Regions from separate parts of the Homo sapiens genome. Here region 1 is linked to region 2. A link means that fine-mapping ties the variant in region 2 to the expression of a gene that starts in the linked region. Tissue or cell type: T cells. Region 2 holds a variant in brackets; the other region holds the start of a gene. All regions are shown on one strand. Distances are from middle to middle.

What was found. PIP is the estimated chance that this variant, and not a neighbour inherited with it, causes the effect.
Region 1: it holds the start of LENG8, and the variant in region 2 is fine-mapped to the expression of LENG8 in T cells (TOPMed, PIP 0.96).

Annotation. Positions count from the first base shown.
Region 1 is chr19:54,445,445-54,453,747 of GRCh38, reverse strand. It overlaps LENG8 (leukocyte receptor cluster member 8), which reads right to left and starts at 4,549. Exons shown (of 16, transcript NM_052925.4): 1 at 4,438-4,549; 2 at 2,366-2,458; 3 at 1,481-1,655; 4 at 996-1,097; 5 at 92-202. The coding sequence starts at 2,403. LENG8-AS1 (LENG8 antisense RNA 1) reads left to right here and starts at 4,710. Exons shown (of 3, transcript NR_126418.1): 1 at 4,710-5,186; 2 at 5,533-5,583. RefSeq lists an enhancer at 3,892-4,799.
Region 2 is chr19:54,344,925-54,351,790 of GRCh38, reverse strand. It overlaps LAIR1 (leukocyte associated immunoglobulin like receptor 1), which reads left to right. Exons shown (of 10, transcript NM_002287.6): 10 at 1-407. Among named protein-coding and RNA genes, the nearest start is that of LILRA4, 9.2 kb to the right of the region's middle. The variant A/C (reference allele first, on the strand shown) is at 3,990.

The sequences.
Region 1 (8,303 bases), 100 kb before region 2:
AGGAGTACAAGCCATTCCTCATTGACAGCTCATTCAAAAATCTACACTTCCTCTGCTTGAGCAGGGTATGGGAGCTGGGCTAGGATGTTACCTGGTTCAGAGTCCCTTGGTGTTGGGGTGCGGATGGCTGCTGGGGTGTGGCTGAGCCATAGGAGCCGGCCATCCCATACTGGGAAGGGGAGCCATAGCTCTGGTACATGCTCTGCAAAGGCGCAGGGAGGGAGGGTTTAGTGGGAGGCCTACCCTTTCCGCTTCCCCAGCCTGCTCAGGAACTACACCAGCCATGACCCTCTACCAATCCCTCACCCCTTTCTCTCTTCACTATATTAATGCACCACATCCTCTCATATATTAGGAAAAGAAAAACCTCTATCAATCCCACATCTCACTTAGCTAGTTCTCGGAAGAATATAATCAACGATACTGAGTGCCAACTCTTCTAAGCACTACGACAGAACAAAAGGAAAACCCATGCTGTAATGAAGCTTGTGCTGGAATTACATGTCCGGCTGGAGACATCAACATGTAATACATCCAGCAATAAGGATCATGAAACAATAAGATGGCAAAGAAAGGGAGAGGGACAGGCTGCGAGGCAGGAATGCTACTTTCAATCAGTGTGTCAGGTAGAGGCTCTCTGAAGGCGGCATCTGAGCAGAGACCTCCAAGAGGCGGCAACACAGGGAGCACTGCAGCCAGGGCAAAGCGAGAGCGGGCCTGGCGGGTGCGGGCATCAAGGAGGTCTCTGCTTCGATGGCCATGGCAGAATGAGCATGAGGAGAGAAGGGACCAGAACCGGGTATGTAGGACCTTGTGGCTCATGGCGGGGACCTAGGAATTTACCTCCTGGGCAAGTTAGAGGGTTTCTGAGCAGTTATCACTGCGATCTCCAGTCCATCCACCACCCAGCCCCATCCCGGCAGACTCCACTTCACCTCGCCCCGACCCAGCAGACTCCACCTCGCCCTGCCCCGCCCCACTGGCTGGGCACTCACCATGGGATAGTAGTAGCTGTAGGGGTAGGCATAGTTGTACTGCTGGTACCACTGGTAGTACTGCTGCTGCTGCAAAGCTGAGGCTTCTGCCTGGGACACGTACTGTGGAAGCAGAGGCACATGTGCCGTCAGCAGCCCAAATCCACAGGCACACGGCCCCCAAAGGGCAAGCCTGTTTACTGGTGGCCAATTGCCAAGGGATGAAACTGGGTCCATGTATCTGCAAAGTGAGCCACTGTCTCTACCATGAGACTCACGCACGTTAGAGACCAGGGGCATGGGCATGGCCTCCCTCTTCAGAACCACATCACGCCCTAATTTCCTCAAGGAAACAGAACTTTTTCCCGTTCAGATTTAGATACCCTGGAACGTCTTTTCATGTTTCCCCTCAGAGCACCCCGTCTGAATGATACAACAGGACGCCAGACTGTGTCCCTCCCACAACCTCTGGCTCAGGGTACCCCAGCCCCATGAGGCCTTCTCACCTGTGCACTGGCCACAGGCCCATTGCTGCTGGACTTGGCAGAGCCGCCGGCAGCTCCTGACTTGCTGATGCTGGCCAGGGCCTGACGGGCCTTCTCCCACTCCGGGTTCTCGTGCATCGGCGTCTCCATGCCATTCTCTCGGCCTGCCCCAGCCACCATGCTGTACTGAGAAGACCTGCAGAGAGAGAGGACATCAAGTCACACCTGTTCTCCCCACTGTACACAGGTGGGCAAGTTGGGAGGCAAATTCCAGCCCCTGGATCCCATATCTAACTGTTACTACCAGTCTAAGCCTAAGTTTTCTAATCTGTACTATGCTGATAAAGGGTTTCTGCTTCAGAGTCTGCTGGGAGGGATAAATGAGATCACCTACTTAAGGTACTTATCCCAGAGCCTGGCACACAGCAGTTGTTAAAACCAAACAAACAAAACAATTAACAGAACCCACAGAACTGAACACAGGCCTTGGCACCTCCTAGGGCTATGTCTTTCATGAATCAATGAATTCTGTCTGACATCACCCCAGTCGGCAGGTTATCACACTATTTTGAGAAAAAATAAGGAATCAGCAGAAAAACAAATAAATGACTGTGTATTGAGTGTTGGGAAGCTGCCTCCTAATTACACTTGCTTGAATGAATCATCACAATTCTGCAAAGCAAGCGCTGTACTGTGAAAAACGAAAGCTCAGAGAGGTGAAAGCTTGCCCCTCTCCACACCACAACCAAATGCTTCCCTCTGTGTTTGCCTCACCACCACCCCCACCCACAGGGATTGTGGCATCACCTCCCCTAAGGCCACGGGAGGTCCCACCCCAGAGGACAGCACTGGGTCTTGCTTCCTCTTTCCCTCCCGACTGGCCTCCATCCCTCTCGCCTCACTAACCAATCTGTGCTACGTTGATCACCCACGTTGGCCGCCATCTGGACCTTGGGGTATAAGGGGTGGACCTCGGGAGCCAGACTGCTTTTTCACTGTCTATGAGAAAAAGAATGAGTTAGGGAGACTTAAGGGGGAGCTAAAAACACGTCACAAAGTGGGGAAGAAAAGTAGATGGACTCAAGAGAAGCCGGGCAGAAAAGGGGAGGCTGACTGAAAAGCCACTGGGGTCAAGGATCTGAAGAGTTCTGGGTGTGGACTAGAAAGGCTGGAGTGAGGGGAAGCCCCTGGCCCCTTTGTAGAGCTCCAGGTGGAAAACGAAGGATTTGGAAACAGGGAAGCCAGAGCAGACTTCCCAAAGGGAAGGAGAAGGGTCTGAAACCCATGTGAGCAAAGAGAGGCTGTGATGAAAGGTCCAGAGGGTAGGGGTGCCTCCATCAAGGGGAAAAGGTCTACAAAAAATTCTAGGGGCCAGGCGCGGTGGCTCACGCCTGTAATCCCAGCACTTTGAGAGGCCAAGGCGGGCAGGTCACCTGAGGTCGGGAGTTCGAGACCAGCCTAACCAACATGGAGTAACCACGTCTCTACTAAAAATACCAAATTAGCTGGGCATGGTGGCATATGCCTGTAATCCCAGCTACTAGGGAGGCCGAGGCAGGAGAATCGCTTGAACACGGGAGGCGGAGGGCGGTAAGCTGAGACTGCGCCATTGCTCTCCAGCCTGGGCAACAAGAGCGAAACTCTGTCTCAAAAAAAAAAAAAAAAAAAAAGCTAGGGAGTACGGGTTGTGAAAGGAACCTGAACCAAGAGGATGGATGCTATAATGAGAAGAGTCTGAGGGAACCCTTAAGGCTGAGAGGGTGGAAAGGTTTCCGAGAACTCTGTGAAAAGGGAGGCCTTTCAGGGAGCATCGAGGGGGCTGGAAGAATATTGGAGAAGAGAAGAAAATTTTGAGAGGAAAAGGGGATTTTCCGGAAGTTAACCCTGGAAGCAAGTGGTCGTTGAGCGTTCCTGAGAATGCCAACGTGAACCCCAACGTGAAGAAATGGGTTCTTAGCACTGACAGACTGATTTCAAAAAGGTCTCCGAAGGGCAGTAAAGAGACCTACGTGGGAGTCCTCAGTGGGACTACCCCTGCCTGCTTCCACGGGAGGTTCCCGGAAGCAGGGGTAGGGCTGGGAGAGAAAAGGGATCACCGTGGTTGGGTGTCTGGACATAAAGCTTTGGGAATGCCAAAGAAGACCCAAAACATGTTCAACGAATTAAGAGTGGGGTACAGAGAGAATTGGAAGAAAAGTGGAGTGTCTCCGGAGCAAGGATTCAGGAGCCTAAACTCCCGAGAGGGAGTAACTGATAAGTAGGATAATTAATCCCGCAGGAGAACCGGAATTCCCACGAGTTGACGGGATAGGAACGGGAGTCTGGAGCTGGGGAAAAGCCCTAGAAACGCAAAGGCTTAACTTAAACAGGACACAGGGCGTGGGTGGAGACGAGGGATCGTGGCGGGGACACAGGAAGAGGAGCCCCAGGGCAGAAGGGAGATTAGAGGTAAGGTCAGGAGTTGGGGGCTGGACAGAGGACTCCCGGACGGGTCTCAAGAACAGAGACAGGCATCAGACGCGAGGCCTGAGGTCCCGGGAGCACCTGGCCGTCCCGCAGGCTGGGCGAAGGCAAAGGAGGACGCCGGGTGGAGGAGGCCGCTCGGATCCCCACGACTAGCCACGGAGCCACTGCCCAGGCCGCGCCTGCGCACCACGCCCCAGAAAGACGCGCAGGAGCCGCCCGTCGCCCGGGGCAACACCCGGTCAACGGCGAGTGAGGGGCGCCCCGGGGCCCCGAGAACTCCAAGGGAGAGGAACGGAAATTAGAAGACGACGGCGCACGCGCGCTAGTGCCCGAACGCGCGGCCCCAGGCCCGGTGCGCAGGCGCAGTGGCTGCCCCTGCGCCGCCACACCCTGTCGACGCTCGCGCGCGGCGTCTGCTGCTGCGACGGCCGAGAAGGCCTCGGGGCTCGCGGGGCGCAAGACCAAAAGGAGATGCTATCCCCGCCCGCCTGCTCGCCTGCCGCTCCCCTTACCAACCAGGATCCTTCGCTGCAGGGACACGCCAACAACCACCCAGGCGATCAGCAACACGGCCACGACACCGCTGTGCCACCCGGCTGGCTCTGGTCTTCTTTGGCTTCGACGTCCTGACCGCGGCGTCCTGACGTCACGCGGCGGCCTTGCACCGCCTCCCTCGGCCCTGCACAGCCAATGAACGCCACGAGCTGCGCTTGAGCCCGCCTTCCTGCCCACGCACTTACGCATGAACATTTTAAGGCAGACCGGAAGTCTGGGTGGGGACGGTGGCCCCGAGGAGACAAGCGTGGCCGCATTAGCTCTTTCTGCCTCCCACGCAGCCTTATTTTTTTTATTGTTGTTTTCTTGTTGCTGTTGTTGTTGTTCTCGGAGACGGAGTCTTGCTCTTGCTCTGTCGTCGCCCACGATAGAGTACAGTGGCGTGATCTCTGCTCACTGCAACCTCCGCCTCCTGGGTTCAAACAATTCTGCCTCAGCCTCCGGAGTAGCTGGGATTACAGGCGCGCGCCACTATGCCCGGCTAATTTTTGTGTTTTTAGTAAAGACGGGGTTTCACCATGTCGGCCAGGCTGTTCTCGAACTCCTGACCTCGTGATCCCTCCGTCTCGGCTTCCCAAAGTGCTGGGATTACGGGCGTGAGCCACCGTGCCCGGCCGCAGCCTTGTTTTGACTGAGTCAGTGGGAGCCATTACTGTTCCTAAATGTAAACTGGCGTGACAGGAGTTCCGGGATTGTCCACAGCACGGTGATGTGGAAGCCCTGGGGAGAGAATGATAAAGAAAGGGGATGAGGAACAGCTCCACCCGGAAGAGCGGGCTTCCCTAGCAAATGAATCTGGAAGGGCGCAGGGGAGGGGGCACGGCGAGTTCAGATGGACCGAGGCTGGAAGCTGACGCGGTTGGAGGGGGATGGGTGTAGCTGTTGGCAGTGGCGCTGGGGTGGAAGTGTGTGGGGTCACAGATGTGTAAGGGTGGGCGCGGAGCAGACCCCCGAAGGTCCCTGAGGTCAGGCTGAGGCATTGGACCAAATCCGTACATAGGCATTTCTCTGAACTGCGCGCCACCTTTTGAGTGCCATCTGTTTCCGTCCAGGACTCTGATACAACTATCCAGTCCGCTGCAGGGACCGGTCACTGTGTCACAGTAAGTGGTGGGATTTAAGAGGCAGTTTTCCTCCTCATGTTCTACCATTATGAACGTCTAGCTTGAAAAATACATACCATTTTCATAACTACGTATTATTTTGTTAGTGCTAGCATAGTAGATCTTTTTCCGTTATTTTACTCTGTGGGGGGGGGGGGGTTTGTTTTGTTTTTGTTTTTGTTTTCTTTTTGGTACTAAGCTTTTTGTTCTGGAATAATTTTGGATTTATTCAAAACGTTGCAAAGACCGGGCGCGCTGGCTCACGCCTGTAATCCCAACACTTTGGGAGGCCGAGATGGGTGGATCACCTGGGGTCAGGAGTTCAAGATCAGCCTGGCCAACATGGTGAAGTCCCGTCTCTACTAAAAATACAGAAATTAGCTGGGCGTGGTGGCGCGTGCACCTGTAATCCCGGCTACTCGGGAGGCTGAGGCAGGAGAATCGCTTGAACCCAGGAGGCCAAGGTTGCAGTGAGCCGAGGTTACACCATTGCACTCCAGCCTGGGCAACAAGAGTGAAATTCTTGTCTCAAAAAAAAAAAAAAGAAAAGTTGCAAAGATCATAAGCAGTCCACCATGTTTTATGCCCACTTTCTTCTGATGCTGTCATCACAAGCACCAACAAAAGTGGTTTGTTGTAGATACTGACATGATGCATTACTGTAACTAAAACCCAGACTTTACTGGGATTTCACCACCTTTTCCTCCAATGTTTTCTTTACATGCCAGGGTACAAGCCAGGACCCACGTTCCATTTAGCTTCCTTTTACCTGTTGTATTTAGGGTGGGTTTCTTGTAGATAGCATGTAGTTGGATCTTGCTTTTTTTTGCCCAAGCGAACAGTCTCTGCCTTTTAAAAGAGGTGTTTATAACTGTACTTTTATTTTTTATGTCTTATTCTTTAGCATTCTGTACACAGATACAGCGATAAAATGAAATGACTGGAACTTAAATGTGAAAACTCTTTACAAGTAAGCCCACAATTAGATACATTTATCTTACATGTCAGGGAAAAAAATTATGTAAACAGGACAAATTATATCACAAAAGAATCCCAAAGTAGAAAAAATACCTAAGAAATGTGTCTAACCATGAAAAGTACTGTTCTCTTGGTGTCTTCACATCGTGTCTTCTGTGTACTTAAGTACAAAACATTGTTGCCTCTGATTAATGCACCCTGTACTTATTTTTCTGTTGTCCAGTTACATATTTGGTTGGTTCCAGGGCTATGTTCATGTAGCCATCCAGGCAAACCAGCACCCCTCCCTTAATCCACTTCAGAATTTTACCCCAACTGTCTGATGATGTGCTCTAAGAAGTCACTAGGGGATTGCTTTTCTTAAAAAATCTATTATTATTATTATTTTTTGAGACGGCTCTGTCGCCCAGGCTGGAGTGCAGTAGCACGATCTCAGCTCACTGCAACCTTTGCCTCCCAGGTTCAAGCAATTCTCTTTACAGGCGTGCACCACCACACCCAGCTAATTTTTGTATTTTTAGTGAAGACAGGGTTTCACAGTATCTGGAATTCCGGACCTCAGGTGACCCGCCCGCCTCTGCCTCCCAAAGTGCCGGGATTACAGGCATGAGCCACTGCGCCTGGCCAGTAGGGGGTTGCTTCTGAAAACTTATTTTAATAATCTTGGGTAGGCCAGGCGCGGTGGCTCATGCGTGTGATCCTAGCACTTTGGGAGGCCGAGGCGTGTGGATCACCTGAGGTCAGGAGTTCAAGACCAGCCTGGCCAACATGGCGAAACCCCGTCTCTACTAAAAATACAGAAAAATTAGCCGGGCATGGTGGCGCATGCCTGTAATCCCAGTTACTCATGAGGCTGAGGCAGGAGAATCGCTAGAACCCTGGGGGTGGAGGTTGCAGTGAGCCCAGATCATGCCATTGCACTCCAGCCTGGGAGACAGAGCGAAACTCTGTTTCAAAAAATAATAATCTTGGGGGGCAGGAAACCTAAGTCATAATCCCGGCTCTTTTACTTAACCAGCCGTATGACTTGGAAAACTCGTTTCCCTTCTCTCGGCTCCAGATTCCTCATCTTGCAGCTGGGATCCAGAGCTCTCACTCCAGGAGCCCAGTCACAGCAAAAACCAAAACTGTACTTTTTTTTTTTTTTTGAGACAGGGTTTCTCATTCTGTCACCCAGGCTGGAGTGCAATGATGTGATCTCTGTCTCAGCCCACAGCAGCTTCAACCTCCCAGGCTCAAGTGATCCTCCTGCCTCAGCTACGCAGTGTATGGTATTTTGTTACAACAACCAGAATGTAGTAAGACATTTATTGAAGGATATCTTGGTTCCTTCCAAGTTTTTGGCAGTGATAAAGAAAGCTGCCATAAACGTGCACGTGCAGATTTCTTTGTGGGCAGAAGTTTTCAACCCATCTGTGTAAATACTGGGGAGCAGTGTTGCTGGTTCATATTCTAAGAGTATGTTTAGGATTATGAGAGACCACCACACTGTCCTCCAAAGTAGCTGTACCATTCTGCATTGCCAGCACCAATGAAGAAGGGTTTCTGTTGCTCCACATTTCTGCCAGCATTTGGTGGTGCCAGCATTTTGGATTTGGCATTCTAATAGGTATGTAGTGGTGTCTTGTTTTTTTTTTGTTTTTTTGAGACAGAGTCTCACTCTGTCTTCCAGGCTAGAGTGCAGTGGCATGGTCTCGGCTCACTGCAACCTCCGCCTCCTGGGTTCAAGCGATTCTCCTGCC
Region 2 (6,866 bases):
ACCTCGTCTACCTTCTCTGTCATAGCCCCATTTAAAACACTCTCTCTGGATGAATACACCAAACCTCACAGTCTTTGCTCTCTTGCTAGGAAGAGGAGCAAGAGCGTGTTTCACTCTTGGCTCCTGCTTACACACCTGCTGTCCAATGGAAACTACTACTTAAGACATTTAAAAATAGTTGTGGTGATAGCATGTTGTGTTTTGGTTGGTGATGCCAGTTAGTCTCTGAAAACTTTCTGTGATGAGTGTAAAATTCTACACCTTAATCTCCTTTCTTGTAGGATCTGGGAAGCAGTATGCACTTGATTGCACCAAAGATTTTACGTTCATAGAAAATTTCTGGCATCTGTGTGAAGAAAGTAAACTATATCTTCCATTTAGACAAATAAAATATCTTTTTGATAAAAGGTGACTATATGTTTAAGGCTTAGGGAGAAGAAAGAATCAAGGAATATAAATGTGTTGATGTCTAAATGCAATTCTGACACTTAACCAGAGTTAAAAGTGCTTTGAGAGTCCCCAGAGCTCTGCACCTGCTCTACATCTACTGGGATTTAGAGCTAAAGCTTCCTGAAACCGTTGTTCTGCTTGGTCCTTCAGCAGTGACAACCTGTTCTGTTCCAATTGCTAAGATCTGAGTTGTGAGAGCTGCGGGATGGGAATTTTCCTGTTGCCGTTCCAAGAAGTAAAATGTGCCTCATTTAGTCCTAAATTGTACCTCCATAAAAATCACTTTGGGCCGGGCGCAGTGGCTCACGCCTGTAATCCCAGCACTTTGGCAGGCTGAGGCGGGCGGATCACGAGGTCAGGAGATCGAGACCATCCTGGCTAACACGGTGAAACCCCGTCTATACTAAGAATACAAAAAAATTAGCCGGGCGTGGTGGCAGGTGCCTGTAGTCCCAGCTACTCGGGAGGCTGAGGCAGGAGAATGGCGTGAACCCAGGAAGTGGAGCTTGCAGTGAGCTGAGATCGAGCCACTGCACTCCAGCCTGGGTGTGACAGAGCGAGACTCTGTCTCTAAAAAATAAATAAATAAATAAATAAATAAATAAATAAATAATAAATCACTTTGATAAAGAAAGGACAAGGTCTTTATTTTTTCATGAATTATTGCCGTTATTTAAGGGCATACAGAGCCATCATCACAGCTGGTCTAGGATTCACAGATATTTTCTTGTTGCCTTTATTTACCATCCAGCTCAATTTATTTAGTACACTATATATATTCATTTCTGAAATTGCTTTCTGCTTTTACAGACCCCTCCTCCTTCTCCTATTTGGATTTATTGATTGATCTCCAGAACAAAGTTGCTAAATTTATTACATTTGTTGTGATAAAACATTTTCTTCGCAACAAAAGAAAAAGATTTGTGCACATATACTACGTGAAATGCGTGTTATTTTCTCATTCTTCCACCTTCTCCCCATCCTCTATAACACTGGGGCCAAACTGCTATTGATTATTGTACATTCTTTCGGAAATGTCTTTGATTTTTCTAAAGCATCTTTTTCTTTTAACTAATCTGTACTTTACCAAGATTCTAATTTCCCAAATTTTCATACCAGTTAAATCACATCATAACTTAATAAGTTGTTCATTATTAAAGAAATACAATGTTTTTCAACAATAAAGACAGTCCTATTTTTGATGAATCCTAATTTGAATTCTTTAAAAACCATTTACATTTCAGATCATTATAAAATTTTCGTTAAATTAAACATGACTAAGAAAGCCGGCCAGGCGCGGTGGCTCACGCCTGTAATCCCAGCACTTTGGGAGACTGAGGCGGGCGGATCACGAGGTCAGGAGTTTGAGACCAGCCTGGCCAACATGGTGAAACCCCATCTCTATTAAAAAGACAAAAATTAGCCGGGCGTGGTGTCCTCCCTCCATGCATCCTCAGGATCTGTGTCCTCCCTCCATCCATCCTCAGGATCTGCGTCCTCCATCCATCCACCCTCAGGGTCTGTGTGCTCCCTCCATGCATCCTCAGGATCTGTGTCCTCCCTCCATCCATCCTCAGGATCTGTGTCCTCCCTCCATCCACCCTCAGGATCTGTGTCCTCCCTCCATGCATCCTCAGGATCTGTGTCCTCCCTCCATCCATCCTCAGGATCTGCGTCCTCCCTCCATCCATCCTCAGGATCTGCGTCCTCCCTCCATCCACCCTCAGGATCTGCGTCCTCCCTCCATCCATCCTCAGGATCTGCGTCCTCCCTCCATCCATCCTCAGGATCTGTGTCCTCCCTCCATCCATCCTCAGGATCTGTGTCCTCCCTCCATCCGTCCACCCTCAGGATCTGCATCCTCCCTCCATCCATCCTCAGGATCTGCGTCCTCCATCCATCCACCCTCAGGATCTGCGTCCTCCCTCCATCCACCCTCAGGATCTACGTCCTCCCTCCATCCATCCTCAGGATCTGTGTCCTCCCTCCACGCATCCTCAGGATCTGTGTCCTCCCTCCATCCACCCTCAGGATCTGTGTCCTCCCTTCATCCATCCTCAGGATCTGTGTCCTCCCTCCATCCACCCTCAGGATCTGTGTCCTCCCTCCATCCATCCACCCTCAGGATCTGTGTCCTCCATCCATCCATCCACCCTCAGGATCTGTTTCCTCCCTCCATCCATCCTCAGGATCTGTGTCCTCCCTCCATGCATCCTCAGGATCTGTGTCCTCCCTCCATCCATCCTCAGGATCTGTGTCCTCTCTCCATCCACCCTCAGCGCCCTCTTTCAGAAGATCTGCCCAGAGCATTCTGGTCTTCTTGATGGCCTGGTCTCTCGGTGGGAGAAGCTCTTCCTGGCTATGTGTGGTCAGCCATTGTGGTCCTTTTCTGGTCTTTGAATGTTTCTATAACAGCACTTATAATCATTTGCAGTAACATACAGTTGAGCTTTGAACTCCACAGGTTTGAACTGTGCAGGTCCACTTGTATACAGATTTTCTTTCAATCATAGTTACACGAGTGTGCCTGCCTTTCCTGCTTCCCCTCCCACCTGTTTTACCGCATTTTCTTTTTCTTTAGGTTTTATCTTTAAGTTTATGAGTTATATTTAAAAATATTTTTGCATCATATCTATTCAAGAAAATACACTTATATTTCTAAACCAAAACAAGAAACAAGACACAATTATATCCGTCTAATTTTATTTAATCTCTTCTGCATGGTTTCTCTCTCTCACACAAGTATCCACTTTTAAAGGTTTAGGTCAGGCATGGTGGCTCACGCCTGTAATCCCAGCACTTTGGGAGGCCAAGGCGAGCAGATCACCTGAAGTCAGGAGTCCAAGACCAGCCTGGCCAACATGGTGAAACCCTGTCTCTACTAAAAATTTAAAAAAAAAGAAAATTGGCCAGTGTGGTGGTTGTCAGGCCTCTGAGCTGAAGCTCAGCTATTGTAACCCCTGTGACCTGCACATATACACCCAGATGGCCTGAAGGAGCCAAGAAGTCTGGGGCAGCCGAAAAACCACAAAAGAAGTAAAACAGCCAGTTCCTGCCTTAACTGATTAACCAACATTACGACATTCCACCATTGTGACTTGTCCCTGCCCCACCTTAACCGATCAATCAACTTTGTGACATTCTTCTTCTGGATAATAAGTCTTACGATGTCCCCACCAGGTACCTTGTGACCTCCTCCTCTGCCAACAATAGATGACCACCTTTTACCGTAATTTTCCATCACCTACCCAACTCCTATAAAGCAACCCCTTCCCCATCTCCCTTCGCTGACTCCTTTCTCAGACTCAGTCCACCTGCACCCAGGTGAATTAAAAGCTTTATTGCTCATACAAAGCCTGTTTGCTGGTCTCTTCACATGGACACGCTTGGCAGTGGTGCATGCCTGTAATCCCAGCTACCCAGGAGGCTGAGGCAGGAGAATCGCTTGAACCCAAGAAGTCAAGGTTGCAGTGAGCAGAGATCGTGCCATTGCACTCCAGCCTGGGTGACAGCATGAGACGCTGTCAGGAAAAAAAAAA[A/C]CAAAAAACAAAACAAAAAAACTTGACGGGAGGGTTAATTACCATCTTCCTACAACGAGGAAAATGGATGGGGCAGGGGAGGATGTCACCTGCTGAAGGTCAACTGACAGTAAGTATGAACCCTCATGCCTTAAACCAAAGCTTGGGAATTTCTTCCAGTGAATGCTTTGGCCCAAAGCATGGAGACAGAATTCACGGTATCAAATGAAGAGTTATGGACAGGGGAAGAAGAGGTTGTAAATGACTTGGAGATTTGATGGAGTTCCCACTTATAAGTGAGAACATGTGGTATTTGGTTTTCTGTTCCTGTGTTTGTTTACTAAGGATAATGACCTCCAGCTCCATTCACATCTCTGCAACAGACATGATCGCGTTCTGGTGCTGCTACTTATAGAATTAAGAAAGTCGGAGGGAAGAAGTGCTTGGGAGAAACAAAACTAGACAGCAGGGCCAGGAGGGAGACAGTGCTTCCTCTGCACTCCGTGAACAGCCTTATAAATATCTCCCTAGCCTGGTTCTTCCCCGGGATCATTCATCCTGGGATGACACCATTCGTTCCTCCAGTAAACTAAGGCAGAGAGTGAAACAGACCCTAGTTGCTCACTCACTTTTGTTTCACATACAGTGAACAAATCCAAGCAGTTGTACCCTTGAGCCCTCCTCACCCACGTCCCCGGGTCCATTCCCACAGTGCAAGCTCACTGGAGACTGAAGACAGCCTGTCTGTGCCACCACATCAGCCTCCTCCTGGTCCTCTTCTCCAAACCCTCACTCCAGGCTGACATCTATTATTCTCATAGCCCCAACCTTATCTGTAGCTGACTCTTCCCTGATCAAAATCCTTCTCCGGGTCTGAATCTTCCTCCAAGTAAGACACAAGTATCTCTGCCTGATGTTCATGTTGTTGATGACCAGGACTAAGTTAACATCCCCAGCGCCAAAAAACATGGCTCCTTCCTACAGAGCAAATTCATTACAGGAAACCACTTCCGCCTTTTTCCCACCCACCACACCCCAGACAGACACCTGGAGATATTAACATATTTCTGCCTTCTCATAGTCAGCTCCCCGAGAAAATTTTTATTTTTTTATGTTTTAATTATTTATTTATTTATTTATTTATTTGAGACGGAGTCTTGCTCTGTCTACCAGGCTGGAGTGCAGTGGCGCGATCTCGGCTCACTGCAGCCTCCACCTCCAGGGTTCAAGAGATCTGCCATCTCAGCCTCTAGAGTAGCTGGGATTACAGCCCTGCACCATCACGCCCGGCTAATTTTTTTTTATTTTTGGTAGAGACAGGGTTTTCCCATGTTGACCAGGCTGGTCTTGAACTCCTGACCTCAGAGGATGTGCCTGCCTCGGCCTCCCAAAGTGCTGGGATTCCAGGCGTGAGACACCGCACCCGGCCTATTCTTGTTTTCAAAATCTCGCTCATTTCTGAACTTCTGTGCCAGTGACTTCCTAGGCGAGGAAATGCCCGATGTACCTTTTCTTGGACTCCAGTCCACTCCAGACATTTTGTCTCCACCAGTAACTGTGGCCATTGTGTGGAGGAAGGAACAAAAGCAAGAAAGCGATTTTCTGAGCAGGTTTCTATGAGCACCAGGTTCTCACCCTGGTAGGGGCAACTACAGGACCCGAAAGTTAATCTCCCCTGGGTATGACACCCACTGTGCTACTTTCCTCCCCAAGGAAATATAGCTCCCCAGCTGAACCACCACGTGGGTTTGGGGATGTGAAAAAGGGAAATGAAAGAGAAGGCATATTTATGATTTCAACCACACTGGGAACTCATGGAAGCTGCTGTAGACAACTCAAGCATGAGAGGCCAGGCTAAATTTGGAGAAAAAAGAGATACACAACTCCCATTTTTAGAATCCAAGAGGCCTGGAGTTTGTATTATTATTATTTTATTTTTAGCAGCAACACTTATATGGAAAGTACTTGGACACCTTGAGGTCTGCGTGAAAGTTGACTCCAATTGTGATGAGTACGGAAGCTCCTATCTCAGGATTCTCATTTTAGGGAAAATCACTGCTGGTCTGGATTTGTTTTTGTGTGTTTTTTTGGTTTTTTTTTTGTTTGTTTGTTTGTTTTTGAGACGGGGTCTTGCTCTGTCGCCCAGGCTGGAGTGCAGTGGCGCGATCTCGGCTCACTGCAAGCTCTGCCTCCTGGGTTCATGCCATTCTCCTACCTCAGCCTCCCGAGTAGCTGGGACTACAGGCACCAGCCACCACGCCCGGCTAATTTTTTGTATTTTTAGTAGAGACGGGGTTTCCCTGTGTTAGCCAGGATGGTCTCGATCCCCTGACCTTGTGATCCGCCCGCCTCGGCCTCCCAAGTTGCTGGGATTACAGGCACGAGACACCGCGCCCAGCCTCTGGTCTGAATTTAACTCCGGACAGCTCTTTCTTTCTTTTTTTTTTTCTTTCTTTCTTTTTTTTTTTTTTGAGACAGAGTCTCGCTCTGTCACCCAGGTTGGAATGCAGTGGCGCGATCTCGGCTCACTGCAAACTCCGCTTCCTGAGCTCAAGCAATTATCTCCCTCAGCCTCCCCAGAAGCTGGGATTACAGGTGCCCGCCACCACGCCTGGCTACTTTTCATATTTTTAGGAGAGACGGGGTTTCACCTTCTTGGCCAGGCTGGTCTTGAACTCCTGACCTCATGATCCACCTGCCTCGGCCTCCCCAAGTGCTGGGATTACAGGCGTGAGCCACCGCACCCGACCACGGACAGCTCTTTCTAACCAGAATCATCACCTGGACTTCTGAGGCTTGAAGAAAAGATGAATCCTCTTCTCACTCACTTGATTAAAAAAAAAAGTTGGGGTCAGGTACGGTGGCTCACGCCTGTAATCCCAGCACTTTGGGAGGCCG